Regions from separate parts of the Homo sapiens genome. Here region 1 is linked to region 2. Evidence: fine-mapped expression QTL. A gene starts in region 2. The other region holds a variant in brackets. All regions are shown on one strand. Distances are from middle to middle. Region 1 holds the start of LOC124902664 (a long non-coding RNA gene). Region 2 holds the start of TP53I11 (tumor protein p53 inducible protein 11).

The links. PIP is the estimated chance that this variant, and not a neighbour inherited with it, causes the effect. A credible set is the group of variants that fine-mapping cannot tell apart.
Region 1: its variant is the best candidate, but not a certain one, in a credible set for the expression of TP53I11 in whole blood (INTERVAL, PIP 0.79).

The regions. Positions count from the first base shown.
Region 1 is chr11:44,900,555-44,905,920 of GRCh38, reverse strand. All of the region lies in intron 3 of TSPAN18 (tetraspanin 18), which reads right to left. It overlaps LOC124902664 (a long non-coding RNA gene), which reads left to right and starts at 2,082. Exons shown (of 3, transcript XR_007062659.1): 1 at 2,082-2,141; 2 at 2,262-2,565; 3 at 4,603-4,783. The variant A/T (reference allele first, on the strand shown) is at 2,832.
Region 2 is chr11:44,947,617-44,952,982 of GRCh38, reverse strand. It overlaps TP53I11 (tumor protein p53 inducible protein 11), which reads left to right and starts at 2,100. Exons shown (of 7, transcript NM_006034.5): 1 at 2,100-2,306. RefSeq lists silencers at 1,911-2,170, 2,201-2,330.

The DNA.
Region 1 (5,366 bases), 47 kb after region 2:
CCACAGAACAGACCAGGGCGGTTGCTTGGTGCCAGCGAGATGGGGTGTTGCAGGGAAAAGGAGAGCAGCCTACCTGGGGATCTAAAACCTGCTTCTGGGGCCAAAGCCTCCCTGAGCCTTGGCTACCTCTACTCTGAGACCTCTAGCATCCCACCTCCCTGGGAGCCCTTCCTGTCTTCACCTAAAAGTATACCCATGGCAGCAAGTCATTGAACACAATTCCATTCAGCCAACATTGATTGAGCATCCGCTGCTTGCCAGGCACAGCCGGGGCTGCACTGAGATGCAAATGTCCCCCATCCCCCAGGGGAAACTGACAGCATCTGCTCTCATGAGTCAGACCTCAAGGTGCACAAGACATGTTTACATTCCATATTCGTTATTTTCACATTTTCTTCATAACGGCTCTGAGGAGAGACTCAGGGCAGGGATTAGAGATCCATGAGACAGGTGGGGAAACCGAGACTCAGAATGAAAACGACATGTCCGATGTCCCACAGCTAGTAAGGGGAAGGGCCAGAACTCAAGCCAGTCCTGAGCTGCCGGCACTGCAGGTGCTTCCAGCAGGGGGTTTGTACCTCCATGACAGGACTCAGTGCAAAGGGTTCTGGGAATATGTGTTGGGGTGTGGATGGATGTAGGGGAGATGGTGTCTGATTACTTTCTGCAGCTCCCGCTTCCTCCCACAGGACATGGCTGTACTCTATCTTCTTCTTCCACAAAATAAGGTTGCTAAGTCTGACTCAAAGGGTTTCTGGGAGGCTTATTATTAATATTAATAATAGTAAAATGTGTATCAAAGCATCACATTGGACTCCATAAACATATACAATTATTATTCATCAATTTAAAATGAAGTCAGGAAAACAGTAATAATCGTAGCCACTGTTTGGGGATCCAGCACTGTGCCCAGGGTTTTGCGCATATTATCTCGTTTAATCCTTGTAACCACCAAGGAGGTATGTACTCTGATGACCACACATCCTTCCATCAGCCCAGCCCTCAGAAGGGTTAAGGGATTTGTCCAAGGCCACACAGCTTGTAGGAAGCACTGACAAGGCCCATGGCACATAATAGGCCTCAGCAACTCTGTCCCCTCCTCGCCCTCGCCCAAAACCACAATCCAACACTCTCCTCAGCAGCCAGACCAGCACCCTCGTATCATAAGGAACAGATGGAGCAGAGCGGTGCCTGCCTCTCACCTGCTGGGCCACTCCACCCCTCTCCTAATCAGTGATGACAGCACCACTCCAGGCTGCATTTTGGTCTGAGCTAGAGGTGTTTTTGTTTGTTTGTTTGTTTGTTTTTAAGTGCATTTGAATCCATGGAGAGAGGAGCACAGACAGAGCCAGCTGGTGGGGAGTCGACACAGGAAAGGTTCCTGGTCTCAGGGGTGGTGCCTTGCGTCCCTCCTCTCGTTGTTTCTGCCAAGGTGCCAGATGTCTGTCCACCAGCTGAGCTTGGCCAGGCAGACATGGCTAAGGTGCCTGGAGCCCAAGAGGAAGGTCTGACAGGCACATCGGCTTTGGATTTGGCACTGGCCCTGGGGCCGGAGGGCTTTCCTCCCTAAAGGGACACCTCCTCCTTGCTGCTCTACTGGTCCCTATTGCAACTTGGAAAAATGCTGAGCAGGGGAGGCACAGGCGGGGCCACTCAGCATCAAAGTCAGGAGGGGAAGACACTCAGAGCCCACCTGGGACATCCTCCTTCTTCTCTTACTAGGAAGGGGAAACTGAGGCACCAAGTTACCTGGTGAGGAATGCAAGGGAAAAAATCATGGGGTGAACCTGACCCAGGGACTCCAGGCTCCAAGCCTTTGTCCTTCCAACAGTGCCCCAAGGGTTTCTCTTAAATTGTGTTGGGGTAATGGGAAATCAGGGTTTTCCTGAGATCATCCACCCAAGTCTCCACCCCTACAAATAATACTATTTATTGAGCATTTACTATGTGCCAGCTCCGTCCTGATACTTTACATTTACTAACTCATAACAACCCATGAGATTAATACTCTTATTATCCTTATTTTCCAGAGGTGGAAACTGAGTCAGACAGAGGCGAGGTGACTTGTCTGAGGTCACAGCTAGTGAGTGGTGAAGCCAAGATTGGAACCCAGGCAATCCAGCTTGGAAGGACAAAGGATGGTGTGTGTGTGATGGGGTGGGGGGCGGATTTGTCTTTACTTCAGTGAGCATGGCCTGAATTCAAGACATGCCATCTGCCTTTGGAGGTAAAATCGGATGACATCATCCTCTCTATCACAGGGGTCTCTGAAACATCTCCAGCCTCAGCCCTGCTCCTGGCCTTCTCTCTCATCCAGACATGGCTGCAGCCTCTGGGCTGGGACTGGCCTCCCTACCTCCCCTTCAATCCAGTGCTTCCCTGCTGCCAGAAGGAGCTTTCCAGAAAGCACATGTCACCACAGCCCTCTCTTGCTGGAACCCAACCTCTACAGGAGACCAAGCTGCCTCCTACAGACCACAGGACCTCCAAGACTCACCATCGCCACCTCTTGTTATTCCTGCCCTGACTTTCCTATCACCACCATCAAAGGAGAGTCCCCCAGAGGTATGTCCCTGACGCTTACTTGGTGCCTCTGCTCATGCTGATCCCTTCTGTTTGGATTGCCTTTCCAACTATGCCAGTCCCACTTAATTCCTATTCATCCTTTAAGACTCGTCACAGGCATCACCTCCGCCAGGAAGCCTTCCCTGATTCCCCCCTCCTGCCCCCATCAAGCCAAGCTCAGTGCCTTCCCCTAGTATAATATCCCACGGCTTCTGCTGACATCTACCACTGCCCCCACCAAAATATATACCATAACATCATCAGCC[A/T]GCGTTCCTGGTGAATCCCAGAGGAGCAGAGTCGTGGCTGTGCCCTCCTGGGACACAGTAGGGTTGCACTTGGTTTGGACTGAGTAAAACCCTCCACATAGGGAGTGTTAATTCAGCAGTGTGAAGGAAGCCTGGTGCTGGGCTAAGGCATGCTTCCAGTCATTCGTATCCTCCTCGCCTCCAACAGCTAGAAAGTGGAGCAACAAGGATTCAAACCCACAGTCGTGTTCTCCTGTGCTCCGTTTCCTCTCTCTGTTGTACCCTCTCCTGGGTGAGGACAGCCCAGGACAGGCCCCCCTAATGCCCCGCTTGCTCACCCTTCTCTCCTCAGGTCTTCCTGAGGCCTGAAAGCCTAGAGCTGCCTGCTTTGGTGCCTGCCTGGGATGGGAGGCACCAGGACAACCTATCCCTTCCTTTTCTCCAGGCCCTGCCCTCCCAGAGGGCAGTGGGCAGGGCTGAGATTCAGTGGGGACCCATAGGGATGGCTGTCCTGCTGTCTGGCCAGCATCTCTTCTGGTTGGTTCATGCCAGTGCATACTGGCTGTTAAGCATCTCAACCATCATCACTGACTGTGGGGCCTTTGGCTCTTCCTTCGTCACCAAGCCCAGGCTCTCTTCCTACAGAACGGTCCCCCAGGATACCATTTCCAGGCCAGCTTGCCAGCTACATCCCTCACATCATCCCTGACTTTCTAGAAGGAACATCTAACCTGCATCCAACCAGCATGGTCCTAAGCATGGGCTCTGAAGTCAGACACAACTGGGTTCGAATCCCAGCCCATCACCTTTTCTACCTCTGTGTCTTTGGGCAAGTGACTTAGCCTCTTGGAACTTCAGTTTCTTCACCTATAAAAACATCCAGTGTAAAGGGCTCCCCGCTGTACCTGCACAGAGCAGGATGGACAGCTCTTATCACGTCTACACCTAACTCTGCCTTCATAGGTTACTCATAGGCCTGCTGTTCCCTGTTAGACCATAAACCCAGGACAATGCCTTGCACCCCGGAGCTTTCTATTCTGACCCATCTCTCCTTTCAGCTCTTGGCTGACTTCAGCTCCGTGCATCTTCAGTCACCCTGTGCCCTTTGGAAAGGGAAAAGAGGATAGGAAAGAACATTTATTGAGCACTGACTCATGGCCAGTCACATGCCAACTCCGCAGAACTGACTGCCTTTAATCTCTCAACAAGCCCCTAAAGCAGGACGTACTATGCCCATTTTACAGAAGAGGACACTGAAGCTCAGAGGGGTCAAGTAACCTGGCCAGTATCACACAGCTTGTATGCACAGACTGGGCTTCAAAAACACCACTCACCCAACTCCACATCCTGTGCTCTACCTGATCCAGGAGCAGATGTTCAAGCAGAGAGTTGGGCACAAGGAGCACTGGCCTAGGAGTCTGGAGCCCAGGCTTCTGCTCTGTAAGTCACTGTTGTGTGACCTTGGGCAAATCACTTTCTGTCTCTGGCCTCAGTGCCTTCTTGTGTCAAATGGCAGAGCAGGAATCTGATGGCCTGACTGTTTCCTCTGCCAGGCCCTGACTTGGATGAATGGGCCTTTGGAGGCAGAGCAGCCACAACAGCGAGAGGCTGAGTAGTCCTGTGCAGGAGGCCAGGCTCTGCCATCCCTCCCTCTGCCCACCCAGGCAGAGCTTCTCTCCAGGGTAGGATCCAGCTTCAGCCGGCTCTGGCTCTTTAGCAATTAAGGGGTGTAATAAATATGGCAGCTCATAAACGGACTACCTGTATTTATTGTGTACCACATTCATTGCAGATTACATCTCATGGCCCGGGCTTGCGGAGTGCTGGGCTCCCAGACAAATGCAATCAAAGGAGACATGTCTCCTGGGAAGAGCCTCCCACAACCTCAAAGGTGAGTCAGGTAGGAAAATAGATGATGTGAGCCTGGGGGCCGGTGAAGAATATGGAGGCCCGGGTTCCAGTTTCAGAGCAGGGTGGATGAGTAAAAAGAGGGCTTTGGTGCCCAACAGGGGATTGTGTCCCAGCTCTGCCAAGCTTAGCTGGTGGGGCAAGTTACTAAACTGCATACAACTGAATTCCTTCTCTGTAAAGTCAGGATAAAAACAATGCCTTCCTCGGCCGGGCGCGGTGGCTCACGCTTGTAATCCCAGCACTTTGGGAGGCTGAGGCGGGCAGATCACCTGAGGTCAGGAGTTTGAGACCAACTTGGCCAACATGGCAAAACCCTGTCTCTACTAAAAATAACAAAAATTAGCTGGGGGTGGTGGCAGGAACCTGTAATCCCAGCAACTCGGGAGGCTGAGGCAGGAGAATTGCTTGAACCCAGGAGGAAGAGGTGGCAGTGAGCCGAGATCATGCCATTGCACTCAGCCTGGGCAACAAGAGTGAAATTCCATCTCAAAAAAAAAAAAAAAAAAAAAAAAAAAAAAAGCCTTCCTCAAGTTGTATGGAAAATACTGAGCACAGGGCTTGGCACATGGTAGCTAATAATAGTAACCACTGGCATACACTGAGTTCTTACTATGTGCCAGGGAACACACACAATTTCATTGAATC
Region 2 (5,366 bases):
TCTTCCTCTGCTGTCCTCATCAACCCTTCCCTGGATTCTGCTTGCATGCTGCTAGTGACAGGGCACTCATTCATGACAACTAAGGCAGCCTCTTCCATGTTGGAAAACTTGGAGTGATTGTGACAAAGGCCTCCCACTGATGTATGATCAGGCTGGCTGGGATTACAAGCACAGACCCTGCTGCTAGTCTTTAGGGTTACACCAAGCAGAGCACTGGCAGGTGTCCCCAAGTCTGGGAGGACATTGCACATGAATGACGCTGGGGGCCCTCCCTTCAGCAATCCAGAGCCCTGAGTGCCAGAAAGGCAGAAGAGGGAGTGACAAATGAATTCATCAACCCAGCTTGGCCCAGCTCTGTAAAGGCAGTGAGGTGAGACTGAGTTGTTGCAGAAATTACTATAGAGCCTTGAGTCAGATGGCTCCACCCAACACACCTTAAAAATAATCCTCATCTAGAGTCACATACTTTGATTGATTGATTGATTCATTCATTATTGGCTATCACTGTCTAGGTGTTTGGCTGGGGGCAGTGTCAGTGGCACTGGGGCATCAGAGTTTATCTACCTTAGTAATCAGGACAGTTTATATTCACTGAGCACTTACTATGAACCAAGGACTGTTCTGTTTACTTCCTTGCCAAGGGCACAGACTCTCCTGCCCAATCCCAGCTCTGGTGAGGACAGTGGGAGCCTGCATGGCACAGAGTCCATGCACAGTAAACATGAGCAGCTCCTATTAACTCTAAATCTCTACAGCAACCATAGCCGGTTCTTACTATTGGTTGCTCTAGGTGACTTACTTTGTCCAAGGCCACACAGGCACTAAAAGGCAGAGTCAGGATTTGAACCTAGGTGATCTGGTTCCAGAGCCTGCTCTATTAACCGTTAAGGAACTGGTGCAGACAGAACCGAGACCTGGAGTCAGAATGCCCACCTAGCTAGATGCCTGAGGCAGCCACTCACCTCTTTCTGTCTTATTTACTTGTGAAATGGAGCATGTCATCAGCCTTGCCTTCCTTTTCCCGCAGCCCCCCACCCCGGTTCCTGGCCCACTGTGACCATCAGATCAGATGAAAGAGATCCAGGCATTTCTCTAAGGAGAGCACAGGGTGGTGGGGGTTGGGGTGGGAGAGAGCACATTATTTTCCCACCATAAGGGGTTGAAGGAGCCCAGAATTTGGGGGTGGGGCCTTGTCTGTAGGAGCCTGGTTCTCTCAGGTTGACACGCCACCAGAGAGCCTCCATGACCCCCAACCCTCATCCTCACCCCAGCCCCCCATAGGATGTGTAGAGACAAAAGGTTTGACAACTGTAGCGCCAACAAGCGTCCTAGAGCCCCAGATAAGATCCTAGCCTCCTGACAGCGCAACTGACAGCAGCATCTCTGAGGCTGGATTTTAGGGTGGAGTATGAAGAAGGTGGCCGTAGTGACAGTGGGGTCATGTTATTTGGCCAAGTCACACCAAGCAGGGAGAGAGAAGGGTGGGCCTAGGCTGGAAGCCTGAAGGCTGAGTGAACTCAAACTTTAACGACCATGGCCTGTAAAATGGGACTAAGCACAGCGCCCTTATGGGTTGCTGTGAAAATCAAATGAGTTAATACTTGTAACTCCTTTAGCATATGGTGTCTGGCATCAGAGAGTGCGCAGCAAACGGTGACTATTGTCGTGACTGTGTTATTACACACTTGGGTATCACCGCCAGCCAAAGCAGTCCCTTCCATTTCAGGCACCGGCCTGGGCCCGGGAGACACCGCAAGGCTATTTAAGATGGTGTGGTTTGCCCATCTACGTTGATCGTCCCAAGAAAGGGGCACCGTCTGCAGAACTTGCCAGGAAAGTCATCCTGGGCGGCGCGGGCCACGCCAGGGTCTCCCCGCGCGGCTTCCTCCCCCGGCGCCTTCTCTCGGGCGCGCGTGCGCCCCCTGCAGGCGGCCCCCGGGAGAGCCTCGCGGGGGAGCCGGGAGCCTGGTTTCCCCGCCAACCCCCATCCCGCCCGCCCCGGCGGCCACCCTGGGGGCGAGGCAGCCCGGCGCGTGGGAGGGGACGGCGCGCCATTGGCTTGTGCGCGGAACCGAGAGGAGGGACCAGCGCGGGCCGCCAGACTCGGTAAGCCCCGGCCGCGCAGGGCGCCGCGCGCAGTCCAGCCGGCCCGGCCCTGCCCTGCCCTGCCCTGTCCTGCCCTGCCCTGCCCTGCCCTGCCCTGCACTGCCCGGCCCGGCACGGGCGGCGCGATGTGAGGCGTCCGAGCCCGGAGCCTCCGCCTGGCATCAGCTCCACGTAGCCCAGCGCCGGCACGCGCGAGGCCCGTAAGTTCTGCTCCCCGCCGCCGCTTCCGAGCCGCGGACTTTCCCCTCCCGCCGCCCGCCGCCTGCGCAGCGCAACCCAGCGGGGCTCCTGCGGCCGACGGGACCGCAGAGGGGCGGCCGGGACCCCGCGCGCGCTAACCGGGCGCCCCGGGACATCTCGGCACCCGCTGAGCCCGCTGGGACCCCAGGGGGTCGCCTCCCCAGCTCCCCAAGGCGCCGTCCCGCAGCCCCTTCCGTCTCCCCTGCGCGCTCTCCCCTCGCCGCCCCTCCCTCTGACTCGGTTTCCCCTCTCCCCCGGCTCCGCGGTCGCCCTCCTCCTGGACTGCTTATTTCGTCCTCGGCCACTGCCTCTCGGGCTCGAGCTTTCTGCTTCAGAGCAGGAGAGAAACGGAGCGAAAGCAGTTTCTGTCTCCCCGGGGTCTGACTCGGTCCCCCGCGCTCGGTTCTCTGTCCCCTCCCCCTCCCGCCATTGTTCCCGGCAGGAGGAGTGCGCGGCGCAAACTTGCGAGTTCCCCCAGTCTTTGCCCCCGCAGGGCCGCGGACGGAGGTGGTGGCGGAGTTCCCGCTGCCCACAAGTCTGGCCCGACCTTCTGGGGTGGGGGCCTGGGGGCAGGGGCCCTGGGCCGGAGAACCCGGGGCCGCCTAACGGCTCGGAGCTCACCGCCGGGGGACACCGGCGCTGAGGCCTGGGTCTCAGAAAGTGGGTGAGTGTCTGGAGCGGGGACATCAGGGACAGATTGCAGGGGGAGGGGCGAGGCTGAGAGAGTCCCCCGTCCCCAGGCTGGAAAGGGGCGGGCAGAAACCCAGGCCGCGCCTTAGCCCAGTTAGGGGGTGGGTAGGGGACGCACAGGTGGAGACGCCCCCCACTCTCCCCAAAGTCGCGCGATCTGCAGGAAGGGTACAGTGTGGGGCCACTGGCCGGGCGCTGGGTGGGTTAGGGCCCCTGCCGTGGGCAGAACACTCGCACCTACCCGGGGGAGGCTGTGTGGAGGAAGGGCCAGAACGCCGCGCCCACCCCGGCGCGCCCCGCTGGGCGGGGCGGGGCGGGGCGCTCGCCTTGGGTCCCCTCGCTCTACCTTCCTTCGCCCTGACCCAGTCTCGGGCTTCCGCCTCTTCCTGGAGCCCGGGGGGAGTGGGTTTCTCCGCCGGAGAGATGGAGGCTGGGGCAAGAGCAGCGCGGAGGCCAAGAACCCCCAGGCTCCTCCAAAGCCCAGAGCGGCTGGCCAAGGCCCCCTCACCGCCCCACTACCCTGCACTTCCTGATTGGTTTCTTTCAAACAAACTTCTTGACGGGGCGGGCCTGCGGGGAGAAGTCACCGGGGCTGCCCACCCCAACTATGTGGTCCCTTGGACCTCCACCCCTGACGGCCTGTGGAGAGGGGACCAGGATCTGCGGCCCGCAGATCCCAGGGACGCGGGGGTCGTTTTGTTGCAGAGCCAGGAGGGGGCACTGTCCGCTCCTTAGCCTCAGCCCCAGACTTCGAGAAAGGAGAGAAAAGATTTTTCTTGTTGGGTTGTTAGGAAATAAGACTATTCTCCAGGCTTCTGTTGTCCCATCTGTAAAATGGGTCGTCTTGTTCCTGAGGCCCCCTCTGTCCCCACCATCCCAGGAGGCCCCTGCCATGGCCGCTTCTTTCCCAGTCACATGTCGTCAACTTCCTCCGTGCTTCCAAATTTGGAGTGGAGGGCTAAGGCCGAAAGCCCCTTCACCCATGTCCAGCTGTCATGACCTGCCAGTTCTAGGACTGCGACCTATTTTCTGCACAGCTCTGCCTCCAGGCCCCTTGTGGCTTCTCCAGCTCACACCCAGCCTCCCAATTTCTTTTGATAGCCCCACCTCTGTGGGAAGAAGGGCCTGCCCCTCTTGGGGTATGGGGGAGGAGGGGGCTGGATTTAACAGGAATGCCCCATAGTCACACAGTTTGGGGCTGTTCTTTACTTTTGCTTATTGAACAAAATGTTTGTGAGCATTACACCAAAAATGGCTTATGGAGCAAAGTGCCAGGGACAGTTTCAGGCACTGGGGAGACAGCTGTGGACAAAATAAAAATTTTTGTCCTCATGGAGCTGATGCTTAAAAGCAGGGGGCAGGGGGAGGCAATTCCCTAATAAAAACAATAAGCAAATTATATAGTGTACTGAGAGGTGAAGGGGAAAAGTTGTGTTGGGGGTATTGAGGCCAGGGACCGGGTTGTCATTTTAAATAGGGTGTCAGGGAGGTCTCCCTGAGGAGGTAACTTTTGAGCTACAGCCTTGAGGGAGATGAGGGAGTGAGCTGTGTAGACAGCTAGAGCACAGCCCATGCAAAGGCCCTGAGGCTGGAATGTGCCTACCCTGCAGCTAGCAGGGAGTGAGGGGCTGAGGAAGAGTGAGTGACTGAGAAGGGATGAATTCCTCCCCTTTCACAGGTGAGGGAAGTGAGGCTCAGAGACAGTATGTCAGTCACCCCAGGACACACAGGCCAGGAGAGGCAGCTGCAGGGCGGGGTGCCTGATGTTCTGACTCCTGGTCCACGATACCTCCCCGGCACCCTGTGTCTCACTGTTTATCCTGCTACACTGGCTGGACCCCTCCCAGGGCCAGCGCAGCATCGTCCTCCTGCCCCAAAGTGACCCTTGCTCTCTCTCATCCCACTTCCTTCCTATGACCAGTCCCTTCTGAGCACCCAACTCTGACCTGGCACATGATCCCTAGAAGGGGACCTGCTCTGAGGCAGATTTGGTCAAGGGGGCAACTGAGGCAAGGAAGTAGAGTCTTCTAGTCTAAAAATAATGAGCAGCATTATTATTGAACATTAACTACAAAACAGGCGCTGTTCTGGATTTTTTTGGTGCATCTTCTCACTGGTGAGAGGTTGGTGTCATTATTACACCCCATTTAACAGATGAGGAAACTGAGGCCCAGGGAGGCAGAGTCACTGGCCCAAAGGCATACAGCTCATCAGTGGTAGAGCCAGGATGGAGCACAAGCCTTTTAAGTCATGAGCTAGTCCTTTAACCACTAAGCCAGCACCCCAGGATTGGGGAGACACTCAGTCCTGGACTATGGTTGTGGCCCATC